Linked DNA regions of Homo sapiens: region 2 is reported to be linked to region 1. The links are microRNA targets in miRTarBase. Many come from high-throughput screens and were not tested one by one. Region 1 holds a microRNA gene; the other region holds the end of a gene's coding sequence.
The links. The annotated mature microRNA hsa-miR-3074-5p reads GUUCCUGCUGAACUGAGCCAG and lies in region 1 at 1,833-1,853, opposite strand. An mRNA with a match to its seed (bases 2 to 7 or 8) in the 3' UTR can be bound and repressed. Matches are read on the target gene's strand: a 7mer-m8 pairs with bases 2 to 8, a 7mer-A1 pairs with bases 2 to 7 and ends in A, and an 8mer does both.

Region 2: miRTarBase lists CYB5R4 as a target of hsa-miR-3074-5p. Seed matches in the 3' UTR shown: 7mer-A1 at 3,142-3,148 and 7mer-m8 at 2,640-2,646.

Annotation. Positions count from the first base shown.
Region 1 is chr9:95,084,231-95,088,380 of GRCh38, forward strand. MIR3074 (microRNA 3074) reads right to left here and starts at 1,864; the gene lies at 1,784-1,864. AOPEP (aminopeptidase O (putative)) reads left to right here. Exons shown (of 17, transcript NM_001193329.3): 17 at 2,452-2,929. It overlaps MIR23B (microRNA 23b), which reads left to right and starts at 978; the gene lies at 978-1,074. It overlaps MIR27B (microRNA 27b), which reads left to right and starts at 1,215; the gene lies at 1,215-1,311. It also overlaps MIR24-1.
Region 2 is chr6:83,959,438-83,963,437 of GRCh38, reverse strand. It overlaps CYB5R4 (cytochrome b5 reductase 4), which reads right to left. Exons shown (of 16, transcript NM_016230.4): 16 at 1-3,614. The coding sequence ends at 3,560. It overlaps RIPPLY2-CYB5R4 (RIPPLY2-CYB5R4 readthrough), which reads right to left. Exons shown (of 18, transcript NR_174604.1): 18 at 1-3,614. Among named protein-coding and RNA genes, the nearest start is that of LINC02857, 59 kb to the left of the region's middle.

The DNA.
Region 1 (4,150 bases):
TCTAATGTTTTGTGCTTATGAAAACCATTTCTGTGTAACGTGTTTAAGTAGCTTATTTATCTGAAAGAACTCTAATAATGAAAAGAAATAAAAAGTTTTTCAGAAGCATGATCATATTCTTCCAGAAGAGTCAGGAACCATGTGTGCCAGGAAAGGGAAACGGGACTGAGCGTCTCGTAGCGAAACGCCTGCTGCAGACTTGACGCGGCTCCCCTCCAGGACGGGCTGGCGGCACACAGACTGTGCACTTACCTCACTGCCGGCCTCATAATAGTAATCAGTGTAAATGGTGTTTCTCTTTCGTTTTGTTATTTCGTGGCGTACGTGTTAAAGTGTGTGAAACTACAAGGCCAGCTAGTCCTTTCATCATTCCCTTTGGTGCAGGTTTTGGAGCAGCACCACAGGGCACACCCCTCGCCACTCTTTATGGGGAATTTTTGCCCAGGCAGGCAAAGGAGTCATCTTGGTCACAAGTCTCCCTTTTCCCCCTCCCCAGCATCTTCGATCCTGTCCCCACCCCTCCAGATGCATCCAGGGGTTGCAAGCCTGCCCCCCAACCAGTCCCCGTGAGGAACAGTGGCCGGGATTGTCCCAGGGCCCCTTCCAGCAGGGGGACCTCCTGACTTGAGAGTCCCCAAAGCCTTCCCAGGGCAGCTAGAATCTGCCTGGAGAGAAGGGATCTTGTCCCCAAGGGTTAGAGGCAGTAAACTAATAGCAAGGACAGCTGCCTTTAGCAATTGTGTGTGTCGCATGGCCGGTCCCTGCATTTTTCTTCAGTTCCAAAGCTGCACTGGCATTTTTATGGTCATCTCTGGAGTCCCTTTGATTCAAGAAATTATACCTCTAGGATGCCAACTAAACGAACAACAAACAGAAACTCCACCTGTTTGCTAGCATAACAGGCGTGAAGGCGGCAGTGTCGCCGGCGTCCTTCCGCGGAAGCCCAGTGTGTGCAGACAGCACGGGGTGGCGCTGCTCTCAGGTGCTCTGGCTGCTTGGGTTCCTGGCATGCTGATTTGTGACTTAAGATTAAAATCACATTGCCAGGGATTACCACGCAACCACGACCTTGGCTGCTCCTCCAGAAACCGTGGTCGCGCTCACTGCAGATTGGAGAACAGGTGCATCTCGTAGCTCTTCTTTGGAAACAAAAGAAGCCACCAGCTGAGGAAGATGCTCACCGGTCACCGTCCCTTTATTTATGCCCAGCGATGACCTCTCTAACAAGGTGCAGAGCTTAGCTGATTGGTGAACAGTGATTGGTTTCCGCTTTGTTCACAGTGGCTAAGTTCTGCACCTGAAGAGAAGGTGAGATGGGGACAGTTAAGTTGGAGCCGCTGGGGCAGAGGCCGTTGCTGACGGGCCGGCCGCTGCTGCACAGTCAGCTTGGGTGCGGAGCGCGATCCTGGAGGATGAGAGACCACTTGACCCCAAGGATGCACTGTCTCCTGCTGGGAATGCTAGCCATGTACTGAGTCCTTAAGTCTGTCCACAGAAACATGCACTAATCGGACATCTGTCTGAAAGGTCAAATGTATTGAAAGTTGCAAAAATTCTTCTTACAAAAAACTAAAACCAAATGCATCACCTAAGTCGTGTGAAATCATGTGGTAGCTCATGGCTGTGAGCGGGGCGGGGCGGGGCTTTCGGAGGAGCTCCTGTTGTTCTGGGCGCGGTGAACTCTCTCTTGTATTTGCAGTCCAGGCCTTCGCGTCTCCTGCGCCAGCAGACGGTGCCCACGGAGCTCCCAGCTGAGGCGCTGCTTCTCCGGGCTGTCGATTGGACCCGCCCTCCGGTGCCTACTGAGCTGATATCAGTTCTCATTTTACACACTGGCTCAGTTCAGCAGGAACAGGAGTCGAGCCCTTGAGCAAAAAGCCTTCGTGTCTGTAAGTGCCCGAGGCTCAGGAGAGCTGGGGCTCCCACTCGCGGCAGACAGGCCCGCGTCCACCCTGCGTCCACCCCGGCCCGGCGGCAGCACGGTGCCAGTCATCTGCATGTGCTCCTGCGGCGTGGGGGTTTGTAGACTTGGAAAACCCTGTTGGCAGAAAGTTAAGAGCTCCCAGGCCTGAAGGCAGGACACAGTGCCAGCAGGGGGCCGTTTGCCCCCATGTGTAAGGGAGGCAGGGCCCAGCTCTCCCACGGCGAGGTGAGCTGAGACTTTCTGAGAACAGTTAGAGTGGGTGCGTGTCTGAAATGGGTACTCCTAGCAGCTATTGTGTACGCAAAGCCTGAGTACAGCCTGCTGGTGTCATGGCCACGTGTGAGCAGGCCAGCGTCACACGGCTCGCTGTGACCCGTCCCGGAGACTGAAATGGGCCTGGGTCTTCTCCTTGTCCTGTGATTAAAGTCCTCTCTTGAAAGTGGAGAGCAAAGGCACACAGAGGTGCGCGCTCACAAGAATTCCTCCCGGTGACTGGGTAATCAATGTTACTGCTGTTTCCTTTGCAGGAAAGACCACAGCAAGATTCTTTCATTCGTCTCCTCCTAGCCTGGGGGACCAGGCTCGAACTGACCCTGGACATCAAAGGAGGGATTATGTGGCTGCTAAAGCCATCGGCCCACAGCCCTGTTCACATCTTGGTGCTTCTCTTTCCCAGAGGCTGGTCCCAGCCAGGCACACACAAAAGGCAGATTCTCGTAAACGCAGCCTCCCTCCCTGGAGGCTGCCTCCTGCCCTGGATCTGGAGTGGAGCTGCTCTGAGATTTTGAGTTCTTCTGCAGAGATGATTAAATATATCCAAGAGACATTGGAAAACCTGCTGAACATTTTACATTGGTCTGCTCAGCACATGGCTGGATGCGGATATTTCTATAATTCCAGAAAGTCACACAGCTCCTCTGTATGAGACCAGTGGGCGCCATTTAAAAGAACAGGATGAGAATCTAAGATATATTATTAATAAATGTAATGGATTTTTTTTTTGTATACGTGTTTGCTTCTAAATTTCATACTGTTTAAAAATAATAAAGGCCAGGTGCGGTGGCTCATGCCTATAATCCCAGCACTTTGGGAGGCCGAGGTGGGTGGATCACGAGGTCAGGAGATCGAGACCATCCTGGCTAACATGGTGAAACCCTGTCTCTACTAAAATACAAAAAATTAGGCGGGCGTGGTGGTGGGCACCTGTAATCCCAGCTACTCGGGAGACTGAGGCAGGAGAATCGCTTGAACCCAGGAGGTGGCAGTTGCAGTGAGCCGAGATTGCGCCACTGCACTCCAGCCTGGGCGACAGAGCAAGACTCCATCTCAAAAAAAAAAAAAAAAAAAAAAAAAAAGCACGTACAAGAAAAAGGTATTCTCCACATTCTGGTGTTCCCCCCCCACCTCACTAGTTTCTTTGTTGTTTTCAAGGTAGTGTTAGTTCTCTTAGAAGCCTGAAAACAAAAGTAATTTGGCTGCGCGTGGGGCACCCTCTTCCGATAAAATGGAGAGCCTGGGCATATTCAGGCATCGTGGGAGTCTGGTGGTATGATTTTTCTTTCTCCACAAGGTTTAGGGTATAGACAGAAGCTGGGCACTGAGCTTCCTTGGCACTGTCCATGGGGCAGAATGTTTGAAAATGCCTGGAGAAGGCTGTAGGAACGGGTGCAGCCATGGGCCCTGTGCCAAGTTGGGCTGAGCATGAGTGCACCTGAACACACCCACAGTCTCCTCTGCCTGGCTCCAGGGGGCAGCACAAATTCTGGCCTGTTTGGGGTGAAGTGGGGCTCTACCATGGATCTCATTAGAAGCTCTGGACTGGGAGGCCTTGGTCTCCAGAACTCTCTTTTCTTGTCCCAGTGACTGATTCCAGAACGTTCTTAGGATTTGCTCTCTGCTGTCACATGCCTTTGCGTGGGACTGTATAGCTGGCTGTGCCATCGTGGAGGATGGCTCAGAACTTGACTGTTATGTTTGAATAAATACACGACCGCGGCTTCCTGTGGAGATTTAGAATGAACGATGCTTTCTCTCTGTGTGCTGCTGCCTTTTTTTTTTCCTTCCTTTCTTTTTTTTGACAGTTTCACTCTTGTTGCGCAGGCTGGAATGCAATGGCACGATCTCTGTACACTGCAACCTCCGCCTCCCGGGTTCAAGCGATTCTCCTGCCCCAGCCTCCCGAGTAGCTGGGATTACAGGCTCCCGCCACCATGCCCAGCTAATTTT
Region 2 (4,000 bases), not on the chromosome of region 1:
GGGGTCTGTTATCAACAGACTCAGCCCCAACCTCGTTCAGGACAAGCTTGTGTGGTTCAGAAGGTAGATCACAGAGCAGGTTGTACCCATGCCTTTGCCAGCATAATGAAGTTGACTCTTTTGGGGTGGGTGTCAAAGCTCCTCTCATGTTCTGTTACATTAAGGTAAAAACTGAGGGCCCATAGCAAGGGCCCCTATCTAGACAAAACCTAATCATCTTATCTTGGACAAATTTCTCTGTTCTTTCTATAGCCTGTGGTAGACACAATGTGCCCATCAAAGATGTCAACACCCAAATGCCTGCAACCTTTGAATATATTATATAGGAAAAGGGACTTTACAGCTATAATTAAAATTATAGATTTTTAAAATAGGAAGATTACCCTGGATATCTGGATAGGTCCAATCTAACCACATGAGATCTTAAAAGCAGTGAACTCTTGCTAGGGCAAGAAAGATATGGCAGAAAGGGAATTCAGAGAGATTGAAAGCATAAGATTCATCTACCAATGCTGAAGAAGCCCACAAGGGAATTCAGAGAGACTGAAAGCATGAGATTCATCCACTAATGCTGAAGAGGGCCACACAGAAAGTATGAGAAGGAATGTGGGCAAATTCTAGAAACAAAGACTAGCCCACAGCTAACAGCTAGCAAGGAAATGGGGAACTCAGTCCTACAACTGCAAGGAACTGAAATCTACCTAATGAGGCTGAAAGAACTCTTATCTAGGGACTTCCCCTTACAGCCTCTAGCTAAGAGCCCAGCTCAGCTGACAATCTGATTACAGCCTTGTGAGGCTTTAAGCAGAGGACCCAGTTGAGCCATATTGTGCCTAGATTTCTGTGCCATGGAACTGTGAGATAATAAATGGGTGTTGTTTTAAGCTACTAAGTTTGTAGTAATTTGATCTAGCAGCAATAGAAAATTAATAAACTTTTTTTTAAAAAAAGCAGAATTTGCAAGCAAATGTGACTTTGAGCGTAATTCTTCTTCACTGCAAATATGTGATGTAGGAGTCTTTGAGTTATTTGCTTGAGAATAACAGTGATAAACTATACTCCTATCTGTGCTCCTCAGTATTTGGTTGCATTCATTGGAAGACTGAGGCTCTACTTAGGGGATTTTTTCCTCCAAGTCCTTCTAGAATACCCTGGAATGGAGAATGAATTTTAGGAGATCAGGACTGCAGCATGAAGATGAATTATCAAGCTACTGTACTAATCCAGCTGAGGGATGATAGGACAGGGTTAGCTGGTATGGAAGAGTCAGACTGGAGAAGGGGACATTGATGTTGATTCCTAATAGTTCTAGAATGGCTTACTAGGTGGATGGTGGGGTGGTATGCAGGAAGTAAATGGATATTGAAAACTGAAGCTCAGCTGATTCTCAAATTAGTCACTCCCATTTGGGAATTAACATGTAAGTTGATAAAATCATGTCAGTGGAGATTACCCAGGAGACACTTATGGATTTGTTTTAAAATATAAACAAAATATAAATATAACAAAATATAATAAAATATAACAAAATATAAACAAAATATAAATAAAATATAAACAAAAATATAAAACATAAAAGGAGGAATGAGGAAGCATTACATATAGCGACTAATAGGAGATTCTGTTGCTTGGGAAAGGAGAGAGAAAAAAGAAGAGGCTTAGAAAAGATGAGAAAGATGTTGGCTAAGTTAGATTTGATACATCGCAAATGAACTAAAAAAAAGTGGTAAATAGTCTCTTTTTATATTAGTCTATTTTCACACTGCTATAAAGAACTACCTGAGACTGGGTAATTTATGAAGAAAAGAGGTTTAATTGACTCACAGTTCTGCATGGCTGGGGAGGCCTCAGGAAATGTACAATTATGGTAGAAAGCAAAGAAGAAGCAAGGACCTTCTTCATAATACAGCAGGAGGTGGGGAGGAAGTGCCACACTTTTAAACCATCAGATCTCATGAGAACTCACTTACCATCATGAGAACAGCATGGGGGCAATCACTCCCATGATCCAATCACCTCCCACCAAGACCCTCCCTCGACATGTGGGAATTACAATTTGAGAGGAGATTTGGGTGAGGACACAGAGCCAAATCACCTCACCCTTAGATGGAAAAAAATAAGTAGGGGGAAGGCATGAAGCTAGAAAAAGTTCTTGTTACCTACCAGGGAACAGTACCAGTCCAGGACAGCTAGATTCCTGTCTTTGTGAATAATGATGATGGTGGAATTGGCTACAGAAGACAGAGGCACAGGAAAAAGTGATAGTGTTCAACCAGCCATTTGCACATAGGAAGCTTCACAAGCTGGGCGTCTGTAATTTGGGGAATATTAATATTGTGTTCCTCTTGAGTATATTATTCATTCAGCAAAGATTTAGCTGTTTACAAAATCATTTACAGAGAAATTGGAGACTCTTTCAATCCCCTATTTCTGTGAAAACATTGCAGCTGTACTAAGACTGAAAAATCCTAGTTAGCTTATACAGTAGCTACCTATGCATTCAACAGTTTCCTCACGAAAAGCTCACAATGACTATCCTTGATACCCTTTGCTGATCTGAATCTGTGAAAGTATTTGACAGTTGCACAAAGCAGCAGGAAGAGAAAATAAGTTGCCCACATGCAAGAACCTAAGAGGGCTTCCTGCTGAACCACCAGTTGTGGAGAAAGCAGCCAACCAGGGGAAGAACCATTCAAGGCAGAATGTTCCTCATTTTTCCAGCTGATTTAGATGGACTAAAGAATTAAAATTCAACCCATTCCAAAGCACCAAATAATAACTTTATGCTGTGGAACTAGACACTATACTTTCACTCTCTTTCCTAATGTCTTTGTTTTTGGCTAAGAGTAAAAATAGCTGTCAAGGTTCCCTCTCTCAAGCTCTGTTAACACACCTAGTCCAAAGGCGCATGTGTGTCATGTCTCTAATATATTTTATTGCTGCCTTTTAAAATTCCCCTTGAGACGCTGGCCCAATATTGTTGCATTCAACCACATTTCTACCACAAGGATTAAAAAGAACTTAAGTATAATTTTATTCTATTCTGCATCAATGCCATACACACACAAAAAAATGTTTGGATCACTTAATAAGTTATAACATTCTATGTTTTAACATTAATAACAAGGACATAAATGATCATTTCCTGAGTTAACAGTGCAAGGTAAAATTTAATCTGTATTGCTAATAAGACATTTTACAGCATAGAAACATGATCGAAGTGATCATTTACTTTATCATGTCATAAAACACAAGTGCTTATTGTAGAACAGTGATATAATTTAAATGGCAAGGAAATTTGTGATTCATAACAAAGAATCCTGTATGTATTTGTTGCCATGATTAACTTTCCAGGTCAAATATCAGTAGTAAAATAAGTTGTGGTACAAAAGAAAGCCAAGAAGTTACCTGTACTGAAGGAACATTTGATTTCATTTAAGAAACTGAAGGCTGGATTCTAGTTAACCTTTTGTTATGTACAAAAATGTTCTCTTAAAAAACCCTAAGCAATCACAAATTTAGATAAACTAGTTGAATAAAGGACAATGACAGCTCTTCATTATGCTGTAAAACTATGGATCTCATTTTTGGAAAAGTTGAGATCATGCAGCAACCTGAAAAACAAATAAAAAGCACATGTTTCTTAGGGAAAATGCTTTAAAATGAAGAAATAAGAGCAGTTTACCACCATAATCATGATACTTTTTCATTTTCCCCATTCACTATGTAGTTTTTTTTAAATAAAAAAACACTATCACCTCTTAAAAAATTAGTGATTAGTAACTCCTAAATATCATGAAATATCTAAGCAGTGCTCAAATTTTCAACTAGCTCATAAATGTCATAATTTTAAAAAATAGTTTCAATCAATAGCCAATTAAAATTTACTCATTATGATTGGCTGATAAGTCTTTTAGGCATCCTTTGATCTGTAAGATCCCCCAGACCCCCACTCCATCCTGCAATTTATTTGTTGACAAAAATCAGATTTTTATTTGTT